7 linked regions of the Homo sapiens genome follow. The protein of the gene in region 1 interacts with the protein of each later gene in a biochemical or structural test. Each region holds a gene or a part of one and is shown on either strand. Other genes may lie near its edges. The genes, in order: SKP2, SIRT6, BRAP, KPNA6, NUDT1, MSN and BTRC.

Region 1 (3,898 bases):
AGGGCAAGGGAGAGAACAGAGAGTTCAGAGCAGATGTTATTAAGTTTGAACATGGTGGTCAGGGAAGGCCATACTGAGATGACGATCACTAAGCAAAGGCTTGAACAAAGTGAGGGAGTGAGCCCTGTGAGTATCTGGTGTACGTGTTCTAGATCCAAGGAACAGCATGTGTGTTTGAGGCATAGCAAGGAGGCCAGTGTAGAGCGCAGAGGTAGGTGGGTAGAAAAATCAGAGAGCAGCCAGGTCATGCAGGCTTCCTAGGTCATGATAAAGCCTTTGGCTTTGACGCTGAATTCTATGAGGCACCACTAGAAGATTCTGAGCACAGGAATGACAGGCCCTCACGTAAGTTCAAAAAGGATCACTCTGGCTGCTGTGTTTAGAACAGAAAGGTGGATGCAGGAAGCGCAGTTTTCTTTCATAGAAGCAATCTCTAAATAACTATTCAACAAGTATGAAACTCTTACATATGAATACATAGAATAATCCCACAAGCTCAGGATAATGTAACAATTGCCAAGAAGGAAATAAATGCACAATGAAGGAATCCTAAAAAACAGTCAGATGAGTTCAATGATTGCCTTCCTAGGCTTTCCACCTCTGATGGATCTTCTACACCAATTCTGGTGATATTCTCTCCTCCTACTCCCATTTAAAGGTGCCAGTCTTTACTGAGCATGTCCTTTGTACCAGGCCCTGTATAAGTGGGTTTGAGGACACAAGGGAGAAAAACACCGAGGAGTGTGACAAACACCTGCTGCCCTGGGCAGTCTTTCTAAACCAGCATGTCTTTCCCCCAGTTAGAATCCTTCAGTGGTACACCCCAGGTATTTAGGCTAAAGTCCACAATGCTTAGTACAAAGTTAAACGCTTTCAGCCAGGTCTCAACTAGTTTTCCTAGGTTTGTTATCTAGAAATGTGTTCCAGCCATTTGGAGCTACCTGTAATTCTTAGAATGAGTCATTCTGTGCCGTATCTCAATGCTTTTGCACATCCTGTGCTTGCCTCCAACTACTATTCATTTAAAATCAAATGGAAGCCCCAGTTCCCACAGAAGGCCTCCCGTGACATCAACAAGGACAGGCCACTTATGTACCATAATTTCATTATTTACTTACTCATCTCTCTAGACCCCCAGGAGCTCTTGAGAAACAAAAACGCTTTTTTTTTTTTTTTTAACAATTTTTGTATTTTCAGGAACTAGCATAAAATTGATACATTCATCCACTCCCATATTTATAAAATATGTACTATACACTGAGGTCTATTCTAGGTTTTAAGGACACAATGATAAATAAGGCACAATCCTGACCCTTATTCTGCTCAGAGTTTGAGAGATATAGACAAACAGGAAACTTCAATAACCTATCCTGATGGGCTACAGTAGGATTCGGGGTGCTGTGCAGCTTATGGGAATGGCGCAGGGGTTAGGGAAGCCTTTCTGGAGGAAGTGGCCTCTCTTGAAGAATGAGTAGGAGATACACAGTTGTTCAATGAATGCCTGTTCCCCTAGCCTCACGCCCTTCAGGGGACAAAATTAAAGGACTGACTGAGGCCCTGAAAGCTAGGGGTAGAAAGCTGAAGGCAGATCACCCCTGCTGATCTGGGGAGGCAGCTGGAGGTTGTGAGGAGGCTCCTCGACGTGGCAGCTGTTCCATCACTGCCACAAAGTTCCTCCAAAGTCAACATGGGCAGGGGACAAAGGTTCTCAAACCAGGCTCTTGCCCTGCTCCCCAAATTGAAAACAAAGTTGAATGACAGGCTTTTCTCAAGTTTTTCTCCCATTAATCCAACTCTCTCAGACCTCTGCTGCCTCTTACATATCTAGATCAGAATCTAGTAATTGATTGGGCATAACTATATTTAGCTATAAGTATAGTCATCCACTCACGTATTTATTAACCATGTACTATATACACTGAGGTCTGTTCTAGGTTTTGGGCCACAACAATAAGTAAGGTACAATCCTGACCCTTATTCTACTCTGAGTTTGAGAGATACAGACAAACAATTAAACAGGAAATTTCAATAAACTATCCTGATGGGCTACAGCAGGATTCAGGGTGCTGTGCAGCACATGGGAATGGTGCAGAGGTTAAGGAAGCCTTCCTGGAGGAAGTGGCCTCTATGGAAGAGTAAGCTTAACTATACTTCAATAACATACTTAGCTATTTTGAATCTAATATGTTGAGATTTTACTATAATCTGTAAAAATCATACTGACACCATACGCTGGGCCTCCTCAACACATTTGAGGACTACTGGACTGAGAAAGCAGCACAGTTTCTATCAGAATCCTGGCTGTGTTGCCCCAAGTCTGTGAACTTGGGCAAGTTACTTAATCTTTCTGGCCTCAGTTTCTTTACCTGCAGGAAAGGAAATTGACAGATTTATCTTGCAAAATTGTTCAGTGAAGAGTAAATGAGGTACAAGAAAAGATTAAATAATGCAGCAGGGAGTAAAACTTTCTTTTCTATATTCCTCTCCTTTCCCAGTTAAGTCTGGGTATTTTCTTCATGCAATGACCTTTTCAGTGCTGCTCTGAATTTTCACCCATGGGCAGACACTGGACAAGGTCTGCATGGTATGACTTACCAAAACCCCGTATCTGCCCTTTATTTAAGTTTGGGTCCCCCAGAAGCAGATTCTGAAGCTCTGACTTCAAGTAGTTTATTTGGGAAGTGATGCCAGGAAGCACTAGAAAGAGTGGAGAAGACAGAGGTGGAAGGGAAGAAAGCCAACCTGGAGTAGGCTAATAGGCAGGTTATCCCTATGGGCAATTGGGGTTCAAATCTTCTGGGGACTCCAGTAAACCATCTAGAAACTACCCCAGAGCTGTCTCAACCAAGGGCACGAGTGCTGGGGTATTAATCCATCAATTGCTGTTGGTCACTATTTGGGGACTCCCCAGTATTCCTGCCCAGAGAAAGCCCTCAGGCATGGAATCTCATCTACACGTAGGCAAAAGCTTTGGCATGTAAGGGAATGGGGGGCTTCAAGGGGCTATAGATAGGGCACCAACAGAAATTATGGCTGGGGAAAGGAAATTAGAAAAGCTTGCTATGAAGTACAGGGCAGGAGAAATAAATTAACAAACTTGGTGCTTTCTATTAGGAAGACATAAGAAATCAGGACCAATTAAAAGAGCAGTAGCAGCCAGGTAATTAAAGTGCTAGAGGAAAATCTGGCATAGTGATGAATGCAGAGGTCAGTAGACCTAACCAATGAAGACTGCATGTGAGACTCCAAAGTCTGGAGGACTTTGTGTTGCAACTTCCATCTTTGCCTTCCCAACTCCTCCAGATTTCAGCTTAAATGGCACCTGCTCAAAGAAGCATTCCCACCCAGGATACCACCACAGGCCCCATGCCCAGATTTGCACATCCATTACCTAACAATGCCTGGCACATAACAGGACTCTATAAATATTTGCCAAATGTATTTATTAGCCCTCTTCATTCAAATGGTGAATGTGCTAATTCTTTATTAGTGTGAATGGCTAACCCTTATTAACCAATTAACGACTATGTGCACAGCACTGTTGGCATATGGAGGGGATGAGGCTGAAGACAAAAACCCAGAGCAGAAGGGAATGTCCTCTATCAGTATAGCTGTAGTCTCTGGGAGATGGGGGCTGGGGCTTCAAGAAAACATGCAACTATGATAAAAGAGACAAGGTCACACAATCAGTAAGTGGCAGAGGGGGAATTTAAACTCAGGTCTGATTTCAAATCATGCCCTTTCCATCCTAGTGGGTTCTAATATTCTATGCTCTCCTCTGTTGTAAGTACAAATTTTGAAAAGGTGAGAATTAAACCCGGACTTGCTATGGAAACAGAAATCAATCAGGGCTAGGGAGTGAGTGGAGGAGGAGAGAGAAAATAAAACAAAGATGCTA
Region 2 (3,796 bases), on another chromosome or scaffold:
CAGGCGTGGCGCTTCCAAGGTGTCCCCTCCGGAGTTGCGGGGAAGGCAGCTGCCTTCCCGGGGATCTGGGCGGCCCACCCTGCTCATTTTGCGGGCGAGGACACCGAGGCGTCGGAAGTGGAGGGACTGCCTAAGGTCACAGCTGGGGAGAGTGGAACCCGGCTGCTCCTGCGCTCGTCTGTGGGGTCGCCCCCACTGCGGGCTGTGCGCGCCTGCCCGGGCGCCATCGCAAAATCGCGCCCAAAGCACAGGTGGGGACTCATAGCCTGGGGGTAAATGTTAAACAACAACAAAAAGCATGTGCATAAGTGTATAACTACAAACTGAGTGCTCAGAAAATGCCAGCTGCCTTATTGGCTTCATCATCAGAAAACTGGCCTGATCCCTCCAGAGGCGGGGTGGGGGGAGAGGTGAGCCCTTGTTCCTCGGCCCCCAGGCTTGAGGGGCAGGGATTGCAACGGAGCCCAAGCAGCTGGTCCAGGGAGGAGGGGACCACGAACTCCTGACCCAGGGGGGCGAGGACCTGCCACAAATAGGGAATTTAAACACTCACTGGGCACAGTGGCTCACGCCCGTTAAGTCCAGCACTTTGGGAGGCCAAGGTGGCCTGACTGCTTGAGCCCAGGAGTTTGAGACCAGCCTGAGTCACATAGTGAGACCCCCATCTCTACAAAAAATGCAAACAATTAGCTGGGTGTGGTGGCACACACCTATAATCCCAGCTACTCTGGAGGCTGAGGCAGGAGAATTGCTTGAACCTAGGAGGCAGAGGCTGCAGTGAGCTGAGATCACGCCACTGCATTCCAGCCTTGGTGACAGAGTGAGACTCTGGCTCAATAAAATAAAGTAAACACACTGAGATGCAAGAAAGAAATTGTTTTTATTGCATTGAGGACTTTTCCAGAAGCCTGGTGGACCCACGTCTCCCTCCAGCCCCAAAGGCAGTGCAAGCCTCTACTGATCCCCCACTTCAAGGTGGGTCTCCCCTCCTGCAGGGCCCATGGAGGAGGGGTAGGGTGGGCTGTAGGGGGCCCAGAAGGGAGGCCCTGGGGACAGAGGGAGTTCACTCCTGTTTAAGCTGGAGACCAGGGAGGGCCCAGCCTCACCTCTGGACAACACAGCAAGTCAGAGGCTGGGGTGTGGCAGGGGCTCACCTGTCACCTCTGGGGTGTGGCTTCTTCCCGGAACCGCACCAGAGGCCCCTGGAGCCCAGGGAGGGACCACGGAGGGCAGGTGTAACCCCTGGCCTGGAGCACAGCTCTCAGAGCCCTGAGGCTCCCGGGGACAGAAACAAGTAACAAAGTGAGACCACGAGAGAAAAAGAATCCACAGTTTCTACAAAAAGCCCCACCCTCCCCAAGCACCCTGGTCAGCTGGGGACCGCCTTGGCCTTCACCCTTTTGGGGGGTCTGTGGGGGGCAGGGCTGGTGGGCCGCTCCCGTTTGGGGCTGGCGGGCTCTGAGCCGTTGTGCTGGGCGCAGGGCTCCTGCTTGGGGCCGGCGGGGATAGAGCCGTTGATCCGGGTGGGAGATTCCTCCTTGGGCTCCAGCTTGGGGGTGGGCGGGCGGGGCAGGGGTGGCAGCGCCCTCTCCAGCACACGGGGGCCGTCCCAGGCGGGGATCTCCAGCCCCAGGTGCTTCATGAGCCGGGTCATGACCTCGTCAACGTAGCCATGGATGCGGAGGTCAGCATGGCGGTCCTGCCGAGGGGCGGGACGGGTCAGGCGTGGGGGACAGAGGGTGCATGGTGGCCCTGGGCAGGGGTAGGCTCAGACACCTACGTGCTTGGTGGGCTGCAGGTTGACGATGACCAGGCGGCCTCCCCGGCGCTTGGTAGCCAGCGGCAGGTTCCCGCTGGGCCGGATCTGCAGCGATGTACCCAGCGTGATGGACAGGTCGGCGTTCCTGGGGCCGGGGAGCGTGGGCTGAGCCTGATGCCCTGCTCCTGCCAACATCCCGAGCCAGCCCTGGGGGCCGGTTCACACCTAGGCCATCTGTGCTCACCGGGGCGGTCAAGGCCAGCCCCACTCCCGAGTCAGCCTTTGGGATCCCGCCCTGCCCTCCTCTGCGGTCCGTTGGCGGGGTCATTGATCTGGGCGGGCCCTTAGACACTTCCGGGGAGTATCACAGTGTGGTAAGAGCTTGGACACCTAGGGTGGGACCCTGGCTCGGTCACCTCCCGGCTGGGCAGCACTGGATAGAGGAGACACCTGGCGGAAGCCTTGGTTTCCTTGTGTAGCACCCACCCAGAGCCATGAGGTGACGAGTGTGTGTGAGTGCGTGTGTGCAGCCCCTGGCCTGGCCCACCTGCTCCAGGAAGCCTCCCCTCACTGCCTGTGAGCCTCAGCCACTGTCCCATGCTGGAGCTGGCTGTGTTTCTGCTGTCGTCCCGCCCCGCCCCACCATGGGCTCCCTGGGGGTGGGGGGTCAGACCTGCTGGCCTCATCGGCGAGTGCCAGGTCCCGGTCGGGCAGGGAGTCCTCCCAGTCTAGGATGGTGTCCCTCAGCTCTCCCCTGCAATGAGGAAGCTGAGGAGAGTCCTCAGGGGCCTCGCAGCCTCCCCTGGAGCCCAGGGCATGGGTGGGGGTGGCTCACCTGCAGGCTCGCAGCCCCCTTGCCTTAGCCACGGTGCAGAGCCGGCCCGTGGCCTTCAGGCCCATGGTGCCCACGACTGTGTCTCGGACGTACTGCCTGTGTCAGGGAGGAAGGGGGAGGATGGGACCAGGTGAGCTCCCATGGGTGACTCTCGCACTGTTTCTAGGGTGACGTTCTCCCAGGGAGGTGGGGGGTGGACAGGTGACCAGAACTAGCACCCAGCGACACGGAACGAGTAGCCTTCCATGAATAACGGGCTGGGATGCTGCTCGGTGCCCGGAGCACAGAAAACAAAGCAGGAAACTGTCCCAGACAGACGAAGGGGCTCGAGAGACAAGACCCAGCATGGGATCCCGGACCAGGAGAAACAGGAACAATTGGAGCATGGGGGCGACAGGCCGAGTCTGGATTCGGGATTAGAGAAGGCGATGTCCACTTTACTTTTCCTGACTTTAATCGTTATACTGGGCCGGGCGTGGTGGCTCACGCCTGTCATCCCAGCACTTTGGGAGGCTGAGGCGGGCAGATCACAAGGTCAGGAGTTCGACACCAGCCTGGCCAATATGGTGAAACCCCGTCTCTACTAAAAATACAAATATTAGCCAGGTGTGGTGGCGGGCGCCTGCAGTTGCAGCTACTTGGATGGCTGAGGCAGAATAATTGCCTGAACCCGGGAGGCGGAGGTTGCAGTGAGCCGAGATTGCCCCACTGTACTCCAGCCTGGATGACAGAGCGGGACTGTCTCAAAAAAAAGGAGAAACACAGAGATAAGAAGGCCCCTGTGGCTGTAGGTCCAGGACCACCAAGGGTGGCTGGCTGCCACCAGCAGCCAGGAAAAGGCAGGAAAAATCCTCCCCTACAGGTTGCAGAGGGGCATGGCCCTGCAGACACCTGGATTTTGGACTTCTGGTCCCCAGAACTGTGAGATCACAAATTTCTATTGTTCTACGCTGCTCATCTGTGGCAGGTTGCTACAGCAGTGCCAGGACACGGATGTACCCCCCACAGGAGGGAGGCACGGCCCCCCCAAATCCCTCCAGGAGGAAGACATGCCCCCCAAATCCCTCCAGGAGGGAGACATACTCCTTATATCCCCCCAAGAGGGAGACACGCCCCCAGATCCCCCCAGGAGGGCCACACCCCAGTCCCCCCATACCCTCTGGGTCTCTGGGACATCGGATTCGACCCCCAACCCCCTCTGG
Region 3 (3,973 bases), on another chromosome or scaffold:
GGATTCAAGTGATTCTCCTGCCTCAGCCTCCCGAGTAGCTAAGACTACAGGAGCACACCACCACACCCAGTTAATTTTTGTATTTTTAGTAGAGACGGGGTTTCACCATGTTGGCCAGGATGGTCTCGATCTCTTGACCTCATGATCCACCCGCTTTGGCCTCCCAAAGTGCTTGGATTACAGGCGTGAGCCACCGTGCCCAGCCCATCTTTATTTTTAGAGAGAGTCTTGCTCTGTCGCCAGGCTGGAGTGCAGTGGCGCAATAGGCTGGAGTACAGTGGAGCGATCTCAGTTCACTGCAACCTCCGCCTCCCGGATTCAAGTGATTCTCCTGCCTCAGCCTCCCGAGTAGCTAGGACTACAGGAGCACACCACCACACCCAGCTAATTTTTGGATTTTTAGTAGAGACGGGGTTTCACCATGTTGGCCAGGATGGTCTCGATCTCTTGACCTCATGATCCGCCCTCCTCAGCCTCCCAAAGTGCTGGGATTACAGCCTTGAGCCACTGTGTTCGGCCAGCTCACTACATCTTCCACCTCCCTAGGCTCAGGTGATCCTCCCACCTCAGCCTCCCAAGTAACTGGACTACAGCTGTGCACCACCACCCCTGGCTAATTTTTTTTTCTTTTTTTCTTTTTTTTTTTGAGACGGAGTTTCGCTCTTGTTGCCCAGGCTGCAATGGTGTGATCTCGGCTCACTGCAACATCTGCCTCCGGGGTTCAAGCAATTCTCCTGCCTCAGCCTCCCAAGTAGCTGGAATTACAGGCATGCACCACCATGCGTGGCTAATTTTGTATTTTTAGTAGAAACAGGGTTTCTCCATGTTGGTCAGTCTGGTCTCAAACTCCCGACCTCAGGTGATCCGCCTGCTAAAGTGCTGGTTTTACAGGCGTGAGCCACCGTGCTTGGCCTCTGGCTAATTTTTTGCAGAGACTGTTTTACCATTACAGGCATGGGCCACCACACCCTGCAAAAACTGGAAGTTCTTTTTCACCCTCTAGATCCTGCTATCTAGTGTTAACCATTATTAACCAGTACCAGTGAATATTTCTTCTTCTAGATGTTTAGCTCTGCCCACATAAATATCTCACATGCATAATCTTTTCTCTGCAAAAATAGAATCTAGGTATTCTTTTTGATAAAATATGTTTTTGGATTTTTTTTCATACTAGCACATCTAAATCTATCCTGATCTTTGTAACATCTGCATGCTGTTTAATTGTATGGATGTACTATAATGATTTCTGTTGTGGTGGTTGTTGTTGAAATAAGGTCTTGCTGTGTTGCCTAGGCCAGAGTACAGTGGCGTAATCATAGTTCACTGCAACCTCCAGCTACTGGGCTCAAGTGGTCCTCCTAGTCTGAGCTTCCTGAGTAGCTAGGACTACAGGTGTGTGCTACCATGTCTGCCCAATTGAAAATTTTTTTGTAGAGACGGGGTCTTGCCATATTGCCCAGGCTGGTTTTGAACTCTTAGCCTCAAGTGATCCTCCTCCTTGATCCTGTCTTGGCCTCCAAAAATGCTAGGATTATAGGCATGAGCCCTGCACCTGGCCTGCATAATGATTTTGACCAGGTTCCTATTGATTGTGTCAAGTTGTGTCAAATCTCACACTACTATAAGCAATACTGTAATGAGCATCTTCCTCCATGTCTCTTTTTACCTAATCCTGAGTATATCTATTCTATGGTATAAATTCCTAGAAGTAAAATAGCTGTGTCAAAGGGCATGCAAATTTTTTGTTTTTATTTATTTATTTTTGAGACGGAATCTTGCTCTGTCACACAGGCTGGAGTGCAGTGGCACGATCTCGACTCACTGCAGCCTCCGCCTCTAGGGTTCAAGCAGTTCTCCTGCCTCACCCTCCCGAGTAGCTGGGATTACAGGCACACGCTACCACACCCGGCTAATTTTTGTATTTTTAGTAGAAACGGAGCTTCACCATGTTGGCCAGGCTGATGTTGAACTCCTGATCTCGTGATCCACCCTCCTCGGCCTCCCAAAGTGCTGGGATAACAGGCGTGAGCCACCGTGCCTGGCCCAAATTTTTTGTTTTTATAGATATTGCCAAGTTGTCTTCGAAAGAGTTTATACCAGTTCATGCTCCAGTGCTAGTGTGTAAGTGCCTCTTTTCTCATGTCTCAGCTCTTGGGTGTTCTGATGCATAAAAATAGTATCTCAAATAGTGGGGTTTTTTTGTTCGTGGTTTTTGTGTGTGAGTGTTTTTGGTTTTTGTTGTTGTTTTTTTGAGACAGGGTCTTACTCTGTCAGACAGGCTGGAGTGCAGTGATGCAATCACAGCCCACTGCAGGCTCAAATTCCTGGGCTCAAGCAGTCCTCTGCCTCAGCCTCCCAAGTAGCTGGGTCTACAAGTGCACATCACCACACCCAGCTAGTTTTTTAATTTTTCTTTTGTATAGACGGTGTCTCGCTATGTTGACCGGGCTGATTTCAAAGTGACCCTCTCACTTTTGCCTCCCATAGTGCTGGGATTACAGACATGAGCCACTCTGCTGGGTCTCAGATGGTATGGGTTGTTTGTTTGAGACAAGATCTCGTTCTGTCACTCAGGCTGGAGTGCAGTAGCATGAACACAGCTCACTGCAGCCTTGACCTGCTGGGATCAAGCAATCCTCCAGCTTCAGCCTCCTGTAAATCTGGGACCACAGGTGCACGCCACTGCACCTGGCTAAGTTTTTTGATTTTGTGTAGAGACAGGGTCTTACTTTGTTGCCCAGGCTGGTCTCGAACTCATTTCCTGTTTCATTTACTGAAGCGATCCTCTCGCCTCAGCCTCCCAGAGTGCTGGGATTCCAAGCATGAGCCAATGCACCTGGCCTCAAATGGTGGTTTCATTTGCAATTCTTTACTTATGAGTAAGACTGGACATCAAGAATAGGGCACTCCCAAGTCTAAAGCCCTTTGGTTAGAATAAGTGCCCTTTTTTTCCCCTTCAGCAAATGCAATGAAGTCAGAGTACTTGACTCTCCAAGAATGCCACTTTTCCTCATAACTTCCTTATCACAGCTATCATCTCGAAGGCACCTATTTAACCACTGACTGCAAAACAAAGAAGCAGTAGAATTTTTACCGTCAGTCACAGAATAGTTTCTGCTACTGAAAACTTTCTGATGCTTAAAAAAAAGTGTCTTAAAAGTACATTTGTGGGCTGGACGCGGTGGCTCACACCTGTAATCCCAGCACTTTGGGAGGCCAAGGTGGGTGGATCACAAGGTCAGGAGTTCCAGACCAGCCTGGCCAAGATGGTGAAACCCCGTCGCTACTAAAAATGCAAAAATTAGCTGGGCACAGTGGCAGGCACCTGTAATCCCAGCTACTTAGGAGGCTGAGGCAGGAGAATCGCTTGAACCCAAGCGGCAGAGGTTGCAGTGAGCCAAGATCACGCCACTGCATTCCAGCCTGGGCAACAGAGTGAGACTCCATCTCAAAAAATAAATAAATAAATAATACACTTGTGGACTGGCGCAGTGCCTCATGCCTGTAATCCCAGTACTTTGGAAGGCCGAGACAGGTGGATCACCTGAGGTTGGGAGTTCAAGACCAGCCTGGCCAACATGCCGAACCCCAATATCTACTCAAAATACAAAAATTAGCCAGGCATAGTGGCAGGTGCCTGTAATCCCAGCTACTTGGGAGGCTGAGGCAGGAGAATCGCTTGAACCCAGGAGGTGGAGGTTGCAGTGAGCTGAGATCGTGCCATTGCATTCCAGCCTGGGCAACAAGAGCGAAACTCCGTCTCAAAAAAAAATACACTTGTGTTAAGTAGAGCAAAATTCTTGCTTTGCATAGCTGATTGCGATGGCAGAAAACCATTCTCCCTCACGATGGGAGAAAGGGGTCTGTCCTAAAGGGATTCTGAGGTCATGGTTTCTCTGTTCAATCCCAGAGCAGAAAGGGGACTGTGTCAGCAAATGAAAAATGTGCTTTTGTCTTCCTTTGTTTTTCAAAA
Region 4 (4,318 bases), on another chromosome or scaffold:
ACGTTTTAAGCTTCTGAGATTTTCAGAATAGTAATTGAGCATTGACTTCAACTTAAAGGCCCCAGCTGCATTAGCCCATAACAAGAGAGTCAGCCTGTCATTTGAAGCTTTGAAGCCAGGCATTGACTTCTCTCTAGCTATGAAAGTCCTAGATGACATCTTCCTCCAATGGAAAGCTGTTTCTTCTACATTGAAAATCTGTTGGCTAGTGTAGCCACTTTCATTAATGATCTTAGCTTGATCTTCTGGATAACTTGCTGTAGCTTCTGCATCAGCACATGCTGCTTCACCTTGCACTTTTTTGAGACAGTGTCTCACTCTGTCACCCAGACTGGAGTGCAGTGGCACGATCTCGCCTCACTGCAGCCTCTGTCTCCCGGGTTCAAGTAATTATGGTGCCTCAGTCTCCTAAGTAGCTGGGATTATAGGTGTGTGCCACCACGCCCAGAACATTTATGTATTTTTATAGAGACAGTGTTTCGCCGTGTTGGCCAGGCTGGTCTCGAACTCCTGACCTCAAGTGATCCGCCCACCTCAGCCTCCCAAAGTGCTGGGATTATAGGCATGAGCCACCACACCCGGCTTCACTTTTTTTTTTGAGACGGAGTTTCTCTCTGTTGCCCAGGCTGGAATGCAGTGGCGCGACCTCAGCTCACTACAAGCTCGGCCTCCCGGGTTCACGCCATTCTCCTGCCTCAGCCTCCCGAGTAGCTGGGACCACAGGCGCCCGCTACCACGCCCGGCTAATTTTTTTTTGTATTTTTAGTAGAGATGGGATTTCACCATGTTAGCCAGGATGGTCTCGATCTCCTGACCTCGTGATCCGCCCATCTCAACCTTCCAAAGTGCTGGGATTACAAGGCGTGAGCCACTGTGCCCAACTTTTTTTTTTAAGATAGGGTTTTTGTCTGTCACCCAGGCTGGGGTGCAGTGGCAAGATAGCACACTGCAACCTCTAATTCCTGGGCTCAAGGGATCCCCCCACGTCAGCCTTCTAAGTAGCTGGGGACTACAGGTGTGTGCCACCACACTCAGCCAATTTTAAATTTTTGTGAGACAGTGTGTCACCATGTTGCCCAGGCTGGTCTTCAAGTCCTGTCCTCAAGTGATCCTTATTCCTCAGCCTCCAAAGCCACTGGGATTACAAGCATGAGTCACTGAGTTTGGCCTCCACATTGATGGCTTCTTTCCTTAAACCCTTTCTTTTTGAGACGGAGTCTCACTGTCGCCCAGGCTGGAGTGCAGTGCCATGATCTCAGCTCACTGCAACCTCTTCCTCCCAGATTCAAGCGATTCTCCTGCCTCAGCCTCCCAGGTAGCCAGGATAACAGGTGCCCGCCACCACATCTGGCTAATTTTTGTATTTTTAGTAGAGATGGGGTTTCACCATGTTGGCCAAGTTGGTCTCGAACTCCTGACCTCAGGTGATCCACCTGCCTCAGCCTCCCAAAGTCTTGGGATTACAGGCATAAGCCACTGCGCTCGGCTCCTTAAACCTTATGAACCAGTCTCGTTAGAGCCTGGCTCTGGATTAGGCTTTGGTTTAAGGCAGTATTGTGGCTGATTTGATCTTCTGTCAAAACCACTAAAAGTTTATCCATATTGGCAATAAGGCTGTTTTTTCTTTTCTTTTCTTTTTTTTTTTTTTGAGACAGAGGCTGGAGTGCAGTGGCCCTATCTTGGCTCACTGCAAGCTCCGCCTCCCGGGTTCATGCCATTCTCCTGCCTCAGCCTCCTGAGTAGCGCCCGGCCGGTTGTTTTTTTTAAACATTTGTGTGTTCACTGGACTAGTACTTTTCATTTCCTTCAAGATCTTTTCCTGGCCAGGTGCAGTGGCTCATGCCTGTAATCCTAGCACTTTGGGAGGCCCAGGCAGGCGGATCACCTGAGGTCAGGAGTTCAAGATCAGCCTGACTAACATGGAGAAACCCTGTCTCTACTAAAAATACAAAATTAGCCGGGTGTGGTGGCACATGCCTGCAATTCTAGCTATTTGGGAGGCTGAGGCAGAAGAATCGCTTGAACCCAGGAGGTGGAGGTTTCGGTGAGCTGAGATCGCACCATTACACTCCAGACTTGGAAACTCCTTCACAACAAAAAAAAAGAACTTTTCCTTTGCATTCACAGCTTTGCTAACTGGCGCAAGAGGCTTAGCTTTCACCATATCTTGGCTTTTTGACATGCCTTCCTCACTAAGCTTAATCATTTCTAGCTTTTGACTTAATGTGGAGACATGCAACTGCCCCTTTCACTTGAACAAATAGAGGCCATTGTAGGGTTATTAATTAGCCTCATTTCAATATTGTTGTATCTCAGGGAATAGGGTGGGAGAGAGACTGTGGAATGGCTTGTTGGTGGAGCAGTCAGATCATACACAGTATTTATCAGTTAAGTTCTCCATCTTATATGACCATGGCTCATGGCACCCCAAAACAGTTGCAATACTAGCATCAAATATCACTGATCACAGATCACCATAACAGATAAAACAAAAAACAAAAGTTTGAAATATTACGAGAATTACCAAAATGTGGCACAAAGTGAACACATGCTGCTGGAAAAATGGCACCAGTAGACTTGCTTAACATAGGATTGCCACAAACCTTCAATTTGTTTTTTTTTGTTTTTTTTTTTTGAGACGGAGTTTCACTCTGTCACCCAGGCTGGAGTGCAGTGGCACGATCTTGGCTCACTGCAACCTCCACCCTCCGGGTTCAAATGATTCTCCTTCGTCAGCCTCCTGAGTAGCTGGGACTACAGGCGCCTGCCACCACGCCCGGCTAACTTTTTGTATTTTTAGTAGAGATGGGGTTTTACCATCTTGGCCAGGCTGGTCTTGAACTCCTGACCTTGTGATCCACCCGCCTCGGCCTCCCAAAGTGCTGGGATTACAGGCGTGAGCCACTGCGCCCGGCCCAATTTGTTTTTTTTTTTTTAAAAAAAACACACATTGGCTGGGTATGCTGGCTGACGCCTATAATCCCAGCACTTTGGGAGGCTAAGGCAGGTGAAACTCTTGAGCTCAGCAGTTTGAGACCAGCCTGGGCAACATAGTGAGACCCTGTCTCAAGACAAAAACAATAACAACAATAAAAAAACACACAGTATCGGTGAATCACAGTAAAATGAGATATGCCTGTACTTTATATATTCATTTAATTCTCAGATTCTCATGTTTTAGTTGAGAAAACCAAAGGATGGAGAGGTTTCAGTAACTTGGGCAAATTCATAGCTAATACATGGAAGAGACGCTTACTCAGTATGATTCTAATCAAAATATGGGCTGTTTGTACATAAGCATTCCTGAAGTAGCTAAAGCAATCTCTTCCCCACCCATCTTTTCCTATAGAAATCTCACCTGTTTTTCTTTTCTTTTTTTTAATTTGATATGGAGTTTCGCTCTTGTTGCCCAGGCTGGAGTGCAGTGGCACAATCTCCGCTCACCGCAACCTCTGCCTCCCAGTTCAAACTATTCTCCTGCCTCAGCCTCCTGAGTAACTGGGATTACAGGCATGCACCACCATGCCCAGCTAATTGTTTGTATTTTTAGTAGAGACGGGGTTTCACCATGTTGGTCAGGCTGGTCTCGAACTCCCAACCTCAGGTGATCCTCCCGCCTCAGCCTCCCAAAGTGCTGAGATTATAGACGTGAGCCACCGTGCCCAGCCATCTCACCTGTTTTTCAAGATATACTTTAAATACTGCCTTCTTCATGAACCTTTCTGAAGTACTTTATGCCTTCCAGTTTGGAAATGAACTCTCCTAAATTCTATAGCACTTTGTTCTTACTTTTTTTTTTTTTAAATGGAGTCTCGCTTTTTCTCCCAGGCTGGGGTGCAGTGGTGTGCGCTTTTCACATCCTTTTTTCTATTACAGTTGTTTTATTCCATGTTATTAGTTTTTTGACCAGTTACTTACTCTACATAGCCTCATTTTCTTATCTTTAAAATAGGTATAGGTTAGGTGCGGTAGCTCACACTTGTATTCCTAGCACTTTGGGAGGCTCAGGAAGGAGGATTGGTTGAGGCAAGGAGTTCCAGACCAGTCTGGGCAACATGGCAAAACCCCTGTCTCTACAAAAAAAAAATTAGTTGGGCGTGGTGGGATGTGCCTGTACTCCCAGCTACATGGGAAGCTGAGACAGAAGGATCGTTTGAACCTAGGAGTTTGAGGTTGCAGTGAGTTATATGATCTCACCATTGTACTCTAGCCTAGGTGACAGAGCAAGACCTTGTCTTTAAAAAATAAAAATGAAATAAAATAGAGATAATAGGATTGTTACAGGAATTAAATGAGGTAATGCCTGTAAAGCATTTTA
Region 5 (4,028 bases), on another chromosome or scaffold:
CACATCCCCAGCTTGTGGCACTGAGCATGTGTGTCTCTGCCCTGGGCCAGCTGCCCACCTCGGGGACAGAGTCTCCATCCTCTCCCACCTCTGTGCAGCAGTGCGGGCTGAAGCCCAGCACATCTGGTAGCTTCCTGTGGACGGGACCTGGCAGGCTGTGCTGGTGTCTGGAGAAGAACGTTTGAAAGGTTAGAGACCGGCCGGGTGCAGTGGCTCACGCCTGGAATCCCAGCACTTTGGGAGGCTGAGGCAGGTGGATCACCTGAGGTCAGGAGTTCAAGACCAGCCTGGTCAACATGGTGAAACCCCATCTCTACTAAACAGACAAATATTAGTTGGGTGTGGCAATGTGCGCCTGTAATCCCACCTCTTCGGGAGGCTGAGATGGGAGGATCGCTTGAACCTGGGAGGCGGAGGTTGACGTGAGCCGAGATCGTGCCATTGCACTCCAGCCTGGGCAACAGAGAGAGACTCCATCTCCAAAAAAAAAAAAAAAAAACCACCGCTAGATAGCTTTATTTTCCCTTCCATCCAGTTAATTCCAGATGAAACCCGGCTCTGCGCCACTCAATGCCCCCAGGTGAAGATGGTTTGCGGCTGTTCAGCAGCCACGTCTCCTGCCCAGGGGCTGCCCTGGGCTCCCGCTAGACCGTGTCCACCTCGCGGAGTGTGTAGTCCAGGATGGTGTCCTGACCCTGGAACTTGAAGTACCCGTGGAATTTCTTCTTCTGAAGCAGGAGTGGAAACCAGTAGCTGTCGTCGGGCCACATGTCCTTGAAGGGGATCTGATCCAGCTGGAACCAGCATGGGCGCATTTCTGTACCAATGGGGGAAGAGGAGGCACTGAGGTGCAACCCAAACTTCATGCTTAAAAAACATGTTTTTTTTGGCCGGGCGCGGTGGCTCACGCCTGTAATCCCAGCACTTTGGGAGGCCGAGGCGGGAGGATCACGAGGTCAGGAGATCGAGACCATCCTGGCTAACACGGTGAAACCCCGTCTCTACTAAAAATACAAAAAAATTAGCCGGGCGTGGTGGCGGGCGCCTGTAGTCCCAGCTACTTGGGAGGCTGAGGCAGGAGAATGGTGTGAACCTGGGAGGTGGAGCTTGCAGTGAGCCGAGATTGCGCCATTGCCCTCCAGCCTGGGCGACAGAGCGAGACTTCGTCTCAAAACAACAACAGCAACAACAACAAAACCATGTTTTTTTGTAGAGATGGGGTCTCACTGTGTTGCCCAGACTGGTCTTGAACTCCTGGGCTCAACGATCCTCCTGCCTCGGCCTCCCACAGTCCACAGTGCTGGGATTACAGGGGTGAGCCACTGCGTCTGGCCAGCCCAAACGTACACTGACTCTCTGAGGAGTTCACTGAGTGATCGTGAGGAACCTGACGATCGTTTATATTTCATCCTCATTACCGTGTTTCTCATTTTAGGGTGGGCGCAGAGCAGGGGCAGGTACGCTACTGGAGCCTCGGTGCAGAGACCACGGCTCATGGGCCCCACGCTGGCACTGTGGGGTGGAGGGGGACGCAGGCTGCCCGGTCCCTGGCACTCAGAGATGGTTTGGGCGGATGGCCTTTCTCCCAGCCAGGAGATGGGACCCGCATAGTGGGGAGGGGGAGCAGGCCCTGTGAGACTCACCGTCGCTCTCCACGGGGGTCCCCTGGATGCTGTCTGTGCAGAAGACATGCACGTCCATGAGCTCAGGCTCGCCCACGAACTCAAACACGATCTGGCCCACCTTGTGCAGGGCGTCCACTGTCAGACCGCTCTCCTCCTGCAGCTCCCTGCGGGCAGAGGTGGGCAGGGGAGGGAGGCCGTCAGGGCATGGTGCCATGCCCACACGATGGCAGGGAGGAGGAGCTGGGCATCTACACACAGCCCAGGGAGCCACCAGGGTGGATGGGAGACCCAGGAGGATGTCCCCTAGAATGCATTATCTGGTCCCGACCTGGCTGAGCTTCAGAATCAACTTGAACTTTGAAGACACTGATTTTGGTTGAGAGGCTCTGGGGAGGGGCCCGGAGATGGTGTGGAGCCTCTGGTGGGAGGAACGCAGTTCTAGCCCAGTGCCCTCTGTGTACCAGTGACAGCCCAGGCCCAGTGGAGTCCAGCCACTTGTCCACCGTCTCGAGACCCGCACGTGGCAGGGTTGGGACTGACCCCACTTCCTTCATTCCCGGTTACTTGCTTTTCCGCGGCTGAGCATCAGAGCCCATGCAGCGGTAGTTACGACCGCCGGGGCCCTGGGACGCTTGCTCTGGGAACCTGGGCCCTATACTCTGGGCCTGTCTGCCCAAAGAAATGTCTTTCCAGCCTGGTGCCTCTTCTCTGAGAACACAGGATGAAACCACAGGCTTCTATGATCTGTTTCCTGAAGGAGGAGCTCTGGTTTTAACTCTGGTCCCCAGGCTGACCACACGGGACACGTGGCCTGGGCCTCTTCCTGCGCCTTCTCGGGACATGCTCCCCACAGCTGTGCCTGGAGGAGGTGTAAGGGGCTGACTTCACCACGGGATGCCCAAGTGCTGCTGCGCCTGGGAACAAGCCCTTCCCTGCTTCGTGGCACACAGAGCCAGGTTTCCCCGAAGTAGTCTAACGCTGTTGCTAATTTAAAAATTACATATTTGTTATAGACAACCAGGAAACAAAACGCCATAAACTCATCACCCAGGAATGCTACCATTTCAGTGTTTTTCCTTTGGCTCTTTCTCCTCTGTTTTTCCCTTAAGAAATGCAAACATTAACCCTTAATAGCTTAAAGTTAAAAAATAAAAATGCAAACAGGTTGGGTGCAGGGTGGCTCATGCCTGTAATCCCAGCATTTTTGGAGGCCAAGGTGGGAGGATTGATTGCTTGAGCTCCGGAGTTTGAGACCAGCTTGGGCAATATGGCAAAACCCTGTTTCTACAAAAAGGACAGAAATTAGCTGGGCATGGTGGCACTCGCCTGTAGTCCCAGCTCCTCAGGAGACTGAGATGGGAGGAATGCTTGAGCCCAGGAGTTGGAGGCTGCAGTGAGCTGGGATTACTCCACTGCACTCCAGCCTGGGCAACCGAGCTAGACCCTGTCTTAAAAAAAAAAAAAAAAAAAAAAGCAAACATCATACACACTTTATACCTCGGGCTTTCCACGCAAGAAAGGAGGAGTGCATGACATTCCACACCTCAAGGAACCCAGCCGCCTTCTCAACTCCTGTTTGGTATGGAAGAATAAAACGTTCCAACTTCGGGTTATGGTGGAAACCCGTGTTGGGCACAGCGGTGCTGCTGACCTCCCGTTCTGAGCGTTTGCTTGCTGTGCTCAGTCGGGTTCTTGCTCAGTCCCTCAGCAGACACTTCTGAACACCCACTCTGTGCTGGGACCCTGGGGATGCACGGGCTGCAGCCGCTGGGCACCTCAGTCTCCTCCTCTTACCATGCCCGGCTAATTTTTCTGTGTGTGTGTTTTTCTGTAGAGACAGGGTCTTGCTATGTTGCCCAGGCTGGTCCTGAACTCCTGGGCTCAAGCGATCCTTCTGCTTTGGCCTCCCAAAGTGCTGGGATTTCAGGTGTGAGCCACCATGCCTGGTCTAAATGGTCTGATTTAAGCGATGCCTCCTCAGCTTAAACTGCAGGGACTGGAGAGGAAACGGACCTGGAATCAGCATTTATTCATACAGATGGCTAATTAAAGTTGGGCTTGAGCTACAAAGTGAACGTGTGCTTCTACTTGGGTATAAATGGCTCCCCAGTTAGATGCAATAGAAGTGCTCAGTGGGGCCTCACCCGCCTCTTGGCGGCCGGCTGTTGCTCGTCTTAAAAAGCGTCACCTCCCAGTGGGATATTGTGACTGATTTTAGTTAATCTTCCCTAGCACATGGCAGCGTAGGAAGCATCAAGAATCCGCCGGGAGACAGAGCTGAAGCTCCATTTCCCAGGCAGGGAGCGCCAGGCAGGCGAAGATGACGCTGTTCAGTTCTGCCCAAGTGTCTGCTCTGTCCATGGCACTCGGTTCCCCAGGCGGAACACGGGGAACAGGGTGAGA
Region 6 (4,318 bases), on another chromosome or scaffold:
TACTGAAAGCTTCTTATATTAATAATTTTGGCAAAATGTCATTTTGTAATATAGTATATGCTTTCCAGGTGTGGGGGTGGTAAAGTAATGAGGCCAAAATCATCCTGCCCCAAGACTAATATCTTCTAATGGTGCATTAGCAAGGAAGGCAGAAATCAATATTTAGATATCAGTAGAGTACATAATACTGTAGAAAGAAGAAGAGCACACATGAGACAGAGAAGGAGGTGGATGCTCCTGGGTTGAGAGCAAGGGGTGGGGGTGTGGAAGGGACTAGGCCAGAATCCCCAGCAGCTCTCTGGTTTACAGCTCCAAGGGACAGAACAGCTGGTGTCAAGACCTGGGTTAGAGGTTTGTCAAACAGAGGCAGGGCCCAGTCACCTCTTTGGAGGGGAGTGATGAGAAGGGGATTTTGGTCACCTGAGAGGGTTGAGTAAACTTGGATCAGGGCACAGGCTTCTCTCACCATACTCAGCTTTTTGCACTCACTCCCTAGTTGAGCCTACTGGCATCAAGCTCTAGATGCCAAGGCTGGGATGGCTGTGGAGCAGGAGCTATGGCCCAAGTAGCTCTGAGAGGGGAAGAGACCTAAAACCCCTAGCAGGGAAAATACTGACGCTAGGTGTGAACATATCCTCTCTTTTCACAAGAGTCCTGATGGGGCTGGCTGAGCTTTTGGGTACTCATCCCTACTGTTATAGCTGGAGAGGATTTGGGTATTGAAGCAGGGAGGGGCAGATCCCACGAAGTGACTGCAGATCTGGAATAATAAGTAAGGGGTAGATCTGCCCATAGAGCTCACTTTAGACCGGCCTATACTCCTACAAGGAATTGGGGTAGGATCTTCTACTCAGCCTTGCCACAATAGAATGGCCAATGCCCTTCTAGTATGTTTGGTGAAGGTCTTGAAGGCACCATTTCCCCCATCCACCCTGGGGAGAAATTGAGTCCCTAAAGTCAACGACAAGGCTTATTGAGGCTGAGTTTGCAACAGATCCGATCTGGGAGGTAGAAACAAAAATGACTGAACATCTTTTTATCCCCCAATCGTTACAAAGCCTAAATAACTCTAAACGGGATGGGAGGGCAAATTTTAGGTCAGTTGACATCCTGGAGAAGATATCCTAGGTCCTGTCTCATTCCCTAGACCGCATAACACTCCAACCGTGTAAATCTCAGGACCCTGAAGAAGACAGTGGTAGGGGAGAGGAGGGGAGCTAGCTTCCAACCTACTCCACACTTGACTCCCATAGGACAACAGTAAGTGTAAGGGCATTTGCAAAATCAAGTGGAAAGTACCTCTAGGCTGGAGAAGTAGGATATTCTAGCCATACAGATTCAATGGAACAGAGAAGAGAAAGGAGGTTCCATTGGCACCATAGTGAGCCATTCATTTGCCCAGGGAAGTGGGTGGGGGCTAAGGGGCTAGGTTTGGTCCCATGGCTACATTAAATGCTTGGCATGACTCCAGGGCTGCTCTAGTTAGTGGCTCCAGCACAGTATGAGTTAGGTGAGTTAGGTGTAGGAGTGTGGGGACAAGGAAAAAGGGAGGAGGGGTCCCTAGAGGCTGGGTGCCCATTACATAGACTCAAATTCGTCAATGCGCTGCTTGGTGTTGCCCTGCCGGATCTGGCGCAGGGTCTTGTATTTGTCTCGGCCCAGTCGCATGTTCTCAGCATGGATCATGTCATTGGCAGTCTTCTTGGACTCATCTCTGGCATTGGCCAGCTCCGAAGTGAGGGCCTGTGAGGATGTATGGGAACACAGAGGTCAATGGCTTTCTCTCATTTTACCTCCTGTTATTTGACCAGACTTCCCTTCTCTTCTGTTTCCTTCTTTCTTCCTCACCCTTTCTCTCTATATATAAATATTGAGAGTCATTTCCAACTCTGTTAGAACTGCAGTGGGGCAAGAATATTAAAAAAAAATAAATAAACTTAGGGGACCAGTTGATAATGGGTATCCTTTAAGAGTAGAACAACATACAAAAGATTCAGGTGGGAATTTTGTCAGCTAGATATTTTCTTAATGTAAGAGGTGAATGGAGTGAGTGGGAGGTGGGGCAGAGAGAAAATCTCAAAAAGGGAAGAGATAGCCCAAGGTCTGATTAATAAGTGAGAGGTGCCTATCCTTAAAGCTGTCACTTAAGAACGGCTTGGGCTCCCATACAACACTGGGACAGGATCTTATACCTATCCCCCATGATGGTCTAGGGAATGCCATGGGCTACTAAATCAATGCATATAGTTTCCTTGCCCCTTGGCCCTACTTGTATACCTTCAGGTGCTTCTGCACACGCTCATTCTTCTCTGCCTCAGTGGTACGTTCCTCCTCACTGCGGTCCTTGGCCATAGCATCAGCCCGTAGGTCAGCACTAGCCTCTGCCCCATTCTCATCCTGCTCATCCTGCTCATTCTCAGCAGGCTCTGCCACATGAGGTGTACTCATGGCAGTCTTCAGCTCAGCACGGGTCTTCTCCAAGTCTTCCTGTACCATCTGGGCCTGTCCAGTGACAGAAGGAGAGAAAGACTGTCAGTGAGACCAGTTAAACTGTGGCATCCTGTATATGCCTAGAACGGTCTGGCAAGAGGCAGGCACCAGGTAGGACAAGGCACTTCATCTGCCTGATCCTTAGTTTCTTCATCCATAAAACAAGAGCAATTGTACCAACTTCCTAGAGGTATTAGAGAACTCCAGTAAGTATTTGACGAAACCATGAGTGCCTTCTCCCATGCTGCCTGCTGTGGGAAGTATGAAAGAGGGAGGGAGCCAAAACATAAGGAATCTAAGGAGCTGTTACCTATGCATATGGCACCCATTCCTTCAATGCTTTGCTTTAGGCCCTGTGTCTTACCTTCTGCTGCCACTCCACAGCCTCACTCTCCTTCTTCTGTCGGGCCATCTCCAGCTGGGAGATTCGAGCTGTCAGCTCTGCCATTTCCAAGGCCTACGGATAAATTGGAAGCCTGTGAGAGCTGGGCCTTCTGGTCCTCAGGACCCAGGTGTCTTCAACCCAAGTCCCCTGGGGGACTAGTAAGGGACCTACTGCTCCACTTGCTTGCTGCCTCAGAGACTCTTTTACCAGACTACTTCATTCCAGTCCCATCTTCCCTGACCACCACTTCCTTTTAAGTCAGAGCTCCCCCACCTAGACTGTAGGCCTCTTGAAGACAAACAATATGCCATCTCTGTCCCTTCCTCATTATCTCTCCCCCTGCCCCTCTTGGCAAGTATGCAGCTGGGGGCCTCAGTAAAGCTTTGGCCATCATTGGGTCACTTCCTGAAGTGGCAGATCCTTTCCTGATATCCTAGAATGCTCAGGATTCGACTAAGAGTCTTCCCAGGACAAGTACAGGAAAGACACTCAAGTGTCACAAAGCTATCTGAACAAGGAAAAAAGCTTATGCACACCTTGGGTAAATCTCCCATGACAGCTTCCTCATGAGAGACAGGTCTTGGTTCCCTCTATTCCCACCTCCAACAGTACAAAGGAAGAGTATATGTCAAGGAGTTTGGACCACAGGTTCTTAACTTCTGAGTCACAGAACCCTTGGAAACTGTGATGAAAGTATGGATGCCAAATGCCCCAAAAATGCATAGACACATAGTTTTGCATGTGATTTCAGGGAGCAAAGCTTTCAAACAGAGGCAGAAATGGGTGGGTTCTAATCCTTATTTAGCTACAATTGTGTGATCTTTGGTGAATCTCTTCCCTGAGCTCTAATTTCCTTATCTGGGATATTATCTCATATGAGGTTAATCCCATAGGGTTACTGGGAAGAAGAAATAAGTAAGGAAAAGGGAAATATTCCCAACACAGCAACATACAGCAGGAGCTCAAATATGAGTCCCTTTTGTTCTTTTCTCCTTCCCTTTCCTTTGCCAGGTCAATCAGCTCAGATACCCAAGAGTTAAGAAAGTGAACAGAAACTAAGGGTTAGGGAAGACTGCAAAAATTTCTGGGCCACACTAGTGACTTCTCAGCTTGCTTCTGAACTAGTTATTTGCTGGAGGCCCATGGAGTGGTAGCCTGCTCTAAAAAGCCAGCATGTAAGCAAAAGTAGCTATAAGTAAGTAGGCAGACAAGGAAGAAAGTTCAGTTCCCATAATCCCAGCCCACCCTACAGCTTTACCAGCTGTTCCTGAGTCTTTTTCTGGTCCCGGGAGGCCTGCAGCAAGGCCTCCTTGGCCTCTTCAGCTTCTTGACGCTCCTTGGCCAGCTTTTCAGCCTCGCTCTGGGCACGCTTCCGTTCCTGCTCAAGTTCCAGAGCCCTACGGGTCTGTTCTTCCAGTTCTGAGCAGAAAAGGAGGGGAGAAG
Region 7 (4,318 bases), on another chromosome or scaffold:
TCTGATCATCATACTGTAAACAGTAAACTCCTTTGCTTGTTTCACTTCGGCAGTGAATTCTCTGTAAACTATGTCTTCCACATCTCCAATTAGATTCTATTGTCTGAGAAGAAGGAATGGGAAAGAGGCAGTGTTAGGAAACACCTAGAATCAAACTCTTTTTAGGCTTTAATGACAATCAATGGCTCAATGCTTTACTCTATGGGATATACACAACTTAGGGAAAACTAAAAAATGTCTTTAAAAGGCTACTATCTATATTTATAAAATATTCTTCCTTTTGCAAGGTAATTAAAGGTTGTTTCCTAGAACTTCCCTGCCTATAATTTGTTCAATTAAATAATAAATCTGGTGGAAAGAGACTACTCATCAAGAGAAGAAAAGCTACGAACTACGTGAGGTTATACACTCAGTGCTCTTACATATGTGATGGCCATTGCTACTGATTGCTACTGATGAACTTCTAAGGAGGTTCAATTCAGAAGATATTTAAATATGAGCTTATGAGTACAAGTTTACCAGTCACACTGCTATGTATGAAGGGATCAATCTCTTTAACTCTCTCATCTACTTATTAGTAAACCATTTTTTAAAGCTTTAAAATTTTGCCTAGCAATTTATTTTACCTACCCTACTCGCCTGTAAAGAGATTGATTTTCTTTTCCTTTTCTTTTTTTTTGATGGAGTCTCGCTCTGTCGTTCAGGAGGGAGTGCAGTGGTGCGATCTTGGCTCACTGCAACATGTGCCTCCCAGGTTCAAGTGATTCTCCTATCTCAGCCTCCTGAGTAGCTGGAATTACAGGTGTGTGCCACCATGCCTGGCTAATTTTTGTATTTTTAGTAGAGACAGGGGTCTCACCATGTTAGCCAGGCTGGTCTCAAACTCCTGACCTCAGCCTCCAAAAATGCTGGGATTACAGGTGTGAGCCACCATGGCCAGCTAAGAGATTGATTCCCAACTCATGTCAATAAACCTTAATGGGCTTGCTGTAACCATACTGTGACTGAAGAATGCTGATAATTCTGTGCCCTTGGGCAATACCCCAAAATACATAGATTCTTACCTCAATGTCTTGTATAATTTTAGGATAAAGTGCTCTATAAAAAGAGTTGGGAGGAGCATTCCCGTCAGGAGGTTTGTTTTTGAATAAATACTGTCCCCTAAAAAATAACAAATATTTCCCAGTGAAAATCATGACATTATATATTTAAATACATATATATTTTGAGACAGAGTCTCGCTCTGTTGCCCAGGCTGGAGTGCAGCAGTGTGATGTTGGCTCACTGCAACCTCCGCTTCCTGGGTTCAAGTGATTCTCCTGCCTCAGCCTCCTGAGTAGCTGTGATTACAGTCATCTGCCACCATGCTGGCTAATTTTTGTATTTTAGTAGAGATGGGGTTTCACCATGTTGGTCAGGCTGGTCTTGAACTCCTGGCCTCAAATGACCCGCCTGCTTGGCCTCCCAAAGTGCTGGGATTACAGGCGTGAGCCATCACACCCGGCCGACATTATATATTTATAAGGAACTTCATATATTTTGAAAGTGTTTTCACGGTTACCATTCCATATACTCTCCATAGCTGTCTGCGGAGGAGCAAAGGTAAGCCTGATTTCAGGAGTCCCATGTCAAAGAGTAACCTTCTGGGCTCTAAAGAATCTGACCAACACTGATTTGCTTTTGGGTAAAACATGATTATTTCCAGTGTAGAACATCGGAGTACCAAGCCTTTAGGAATATTATAATATCAGTAAACAAATGGAATATGTACAATCAGAATTCATCTATTGCTCTATTAAGACTACTGCTTAGATTCACTGGCCTCATCTTTTGGAAATTTTGTTAGTAATGGTAACTATTACCTTTGAACTAGCACATGCCCTATAGGTTTTTTTTTTTTTCCCTTTTACTGTGTCAGTGGTCCCCAGCATTGTAGACAGCAGCAATGCCTCTGGCATGGAGATCACTTTTGCTAGGTCTTTATTTGTACAGGGTAAGGTGTGGTGGCTGCTCAGTCACCCAGGCTGCTGCTAATCAGTGCAACTATGCTTTGAAAGGAGCAATTCAGTTCATTTCATCAGAAAACAAAAGGATCACAGGTGTGTCCAGCAGCAGCTAGGGAAGAAGAAAAAAAAGAAATGCCTAAGAGCACTGCTATCAAGTCTAAGGCATGAAACTGACTTTCACAGGTGTGTTCCTGGCTGTGTACATACACATGTACTTAACTGCCTTCCCTGATTCCAGTGAGCAACATTTGTTAGTATCTCCTTCCTTATGACAGCACATCTCTGGAATACTCGTATCCCAAGCTAGATCTTTGCTACAAAAAAAAAATCAGTAAATGGCAATCACTTCCTGCTGGGTAAAAAATTTAATTCCTCATCCGGAAGTTAAGAACCCACCAAACACGGTGTGGAAGCTAGTAAACCCCACTATGGGTGTACTAACTGCTGTTCTCACTGGCACCGTGCCTTGCAAAGTGGAGAGAGGCAGAAATGCCTCTGAGTGTAATCCTGGCACCAGAGAAATCATGTTTTCTCTGGGCCAGTCATCCACTCCTCCCTCTATAGCTCCATTACAATATAATTAATTGTTTGGTGTCTCCAGGAGTGTTTCTCCCCTGCCCTCTCCCTGTTATATACCCTGAAAATTAGTTGAGAAAATTTCCTATCAGGAAGGTAGATGGCTCTAACTTCTGTGTTAATACAGAAAAGAAAATCTGAAATAGAGAAGTGAAAATAATACTTATAAAAAGGGGGATTAATGAAACATGATACACCAGCATAAACAAAAGGGGAAACAAGATGCGTTATGAAAGAATTCCAGATTAATGGTACATTTCTCTGTACAATATTATTCTACAAACACTTTGCAGGCAAATAATAGATTTTGAATGTGAAGATTTTAAGTCTGACTCCTGAGCCCACCCACATTCTTAACTACTTTATTGTTTCTCAATGCCCACCATTCCTGAGATTCCTGTCTTCTTTTAATCTCTAGCACTCCAAGACTTTCTTCCTATGCAATGATACTATCTACATTCTAAGGAAAGAGAACTCACATAAGCTTCTGATCTTGTTTTCCACCTCACTGCATTTACCATGTCTTGGTAAAGTATCTGAATTTCTTCAAATCAAAGTGTTACAGAAAGAGGTGGCTAGGTACTGAAAACTGGCTTCTGTCTTTATGTTTTAAGTCAAAACCTTTTATGATGGAAGATCTTTGAAAACAGGGACTACTTCTATGTGAAATGCCTAGTACCTACAAGAATGTGAGTACATGATAAACGTTAAATATTAAATTCAGAATGTTATCATAAAATGTGATCTGCTGATTAAGAAAATTGACTTTTCCCAAGTGGTCTTTTATTATACTTTTAAGAGTTACCATTACTGAGCAGACAGCATATTCAGTATTATTCAAGAGAGAAAACTACAGAGTTCATGTCCCAGGGGAAGACTGTCAAATCCATCTAGATATAAAATACAACATCAAATACCAAGTTAAAACTTAGAGATAAAAGCTTTATTAGAAAACTGTATTTACTTACTATTTTTGGTTAGTAGAAATGGAAGAACCTTTCAAAGCTAGCATATGGGGAAAAGTATAACACAGAAAGACTTTATTGACGTATTAGGCTTGGTAAGACAACTTGAAAGAAGAAAATGAGAAACTGATGGAGTAAATTTTTTTTTAAAAAAGGGAAGAAAACTGACACAGGAATAAAGTCAACATGTAAAAACAGAAGCAGCAACAAGAAAGTCGAGGGAATAATGGAGGAAGTTGACACGGGATGTATAAGTATTTGGAATTTCATGGGTTTATCATGGGATTAAGAGGATAAACATGCCCAAAGACAAGGGGATATAGTCAGAACTCTGAAGGATACTCAAAAGAGCGGGAATGGGTTTCTGTGGATAAAGAGATAGGGGAAAAAAGTGGTAATTAGTGCTGGATCCTGGATTACTTCACCTACCCTTTAGAAAGGCTCAAAAGCCATCTTCTCAATGATTGTTTTTTCTTTGTAACTAACATAAAAGATCTTGCCATTTAGTGCCAATCCCAAGCAAAACTGTGGAGCCTTTTACCTTTGGCATTTTCACATCCATCTGCCAAGAACTGCCCACTTACTTCTTGATCTTTCTGCCTTCAAAAAAGGACTCAGTAAACTCCCAATTTATGATGAAGGTTTACTGTCATTTACAGTCCAAATGGGAACACAATGTATTTTAACAGGTAACAGAACCTTTATAGCTAAAGGAATGAATCTCCTTAACTGAAATTTCAGGAGTTATTTGGAGACGAGATTCTTTTTTTC

What was found.
Region 2: the proteins of SKP2 (region 1) and SIRT6 form a complex in vitro, tested with the Homo sapiens proteins (one study listed by BioGRID).
Region 3: the proteins of SKP2 (region 1) and BRAP form a complex in vitro, tested with the Homo sapiens proteins (one study listed by BioGRID).
Region 4: the proteins of SKP2 (region 1) and KPNA6 interact in a test that uses a peptide from one of them, tested with the Homo sapiens proteins (one study listed by BioGRID).
Region 5: of the proteins of SKP2 (region 1) and NUDT1, one has a biochemical effect on the other in vitro, tested with the Homo sapiens proteins (one study listed by BioGRID).
Region 6: the proteins of SKP2 (region 1) and MSN form a complex in vitro, tested with the Homo sapiens proteins (one study listed by BioGRID).
Region 7: the proteins of SKP2 (region 1) and BTRC form a complex in vitro, tested with the Homo sapiens proteins (one study listed by BioGRID).

The regions. Positions count from the first base shown.
Region 1 is NC_000005.10:36,158,572-36,162,469, reverse strand, and holds part of SKP2 (S-phase kinase-associated protein 2), read right to left. Parts: intron 1-3,898. UniProt on the Homo sapiens protein: Substrate recognition component of a SCF (SKP1-CUL1-F-box protein) E3 ubiquitin-protein ligase complex which mediates the ubiquitination and subsequent proteasomal degradation of target proteins involved in cell cycle progression, signal transduction and transcription.
Region 2 is NC_000019.10:4,173,248-4,177,043, forward strand, and holds the end of SIRT6 (NAD-dependent protein deacylase sirtuin-6), read right to left. Parts: intron 2,691-3,796; coding exon 2,595-2,690; intron 2,514-2,594; coding exon 2,433-2,513; intron 1,905-2,432; coding exon 1,781-1,904; intron 1,700-1,780; coding exon 1,370-1,699; 3' UTR 862-1,369; downstream 1-861. UniProt on the Homo sapiens protein: NAD-dependent protein deacetylase, deacylase and mono-ADP-ribosyltransferase that plays an essential role in DNA damage repair, telomere maintenance, metabolic homeostasis, inflammation, tumorigenesis and aging.
Region 3 is NC_000012.12:111,644,564-111,648,536, reverse strand, and holds part of BRAP (BRCA1-associated protein), read left to right. Parts: intron 1-3,973. UniProt on the Homo sapiens protein: Negatively regulates MAP kinase activation by limiting the formation of Raf/MEK complexes probably by inactivation of the KSR1 scaffold protein.
Region 4 is NC_000001.11:32,114,556-32,118,873, forward strand, and holds part of KPNA6 (importin subunit alpha-7), read left to right. Parts: intron 1-4,318. UniProt on the Homo sapiens protein: Functions in nuclear protein import as an adapter protein for nuclear receptor KPNB1. Binds specifically and directly to substrates containing either a simple or bipartite NLS motif.
Region 5 is NC_000007.14:2,247,618-2,251,645, reverse strand, and holds the end of NUDT1 (oxidized purine nucleoside triphosphate hydrolase), read right to left. Parts: intron 2,336-4,028; exon of another isoform or gene 1,954-2,335; intron 1,790-1,953; coding exon 1,644-1,789; intron 1,005-1,643; coding exon of another isoform or gene 949-1,004; exon of another isoform or gene 911-948; intron 818-910; coding exon 645-817; 3' UTR 501-644; downstream 1-500. UniProt on the Homo sapiens protein: Oxidized purine nucleoside triphosphate hydrolase which is a prominent sanitizer of the oxidized nucleotide pool. Catalyzes the hydrolysis of 2-oxo-dATP (2-hydroxy-dATP) into 2-oxo-dAMP.
Region 6 is NC_000023.11:65,737,154-65,741,471, reverse strand, and holds part of MSN (moesin), read right to left. Parts: intron 4,295-4,318; coding exon 4,134-4,294; intron 2,948-4,133; coding exon 2,855-2,947; intron 2,503-2,854; coding exon 2,278-2,502; intron 1,744-2,277; coding exon 1,579-1,743; 3' UTR 1-1,578. UniProt on the Homo sapiens protein: Ezrin-radixin-moesin (ERM) family protein that connects the actin cytoskeleton to the plasma membrane and thereby regulates the structure and function of specific domains of the cell cortex.
Region 7 is NC_000010.11:101,528,080-101,532,397, reverse strand, and holds part of BTRC (F-box/WD repeat-containing protein 1A), read right to left. Parts: intron 1,162-4,318; coding exon 1,065-1,161; intron 104-1,064; coding exon 1-103. UniProt on the Homo sapiens protein: Substrate recognition component of a SCF (SKP1-CUL1-F-box protein) E3 ubiquitin-protein ligase complex which mediates the ubiquitination and subsequent proteasomal degradation of target proteins. Recognizes and binds to phosphorylated target proteins.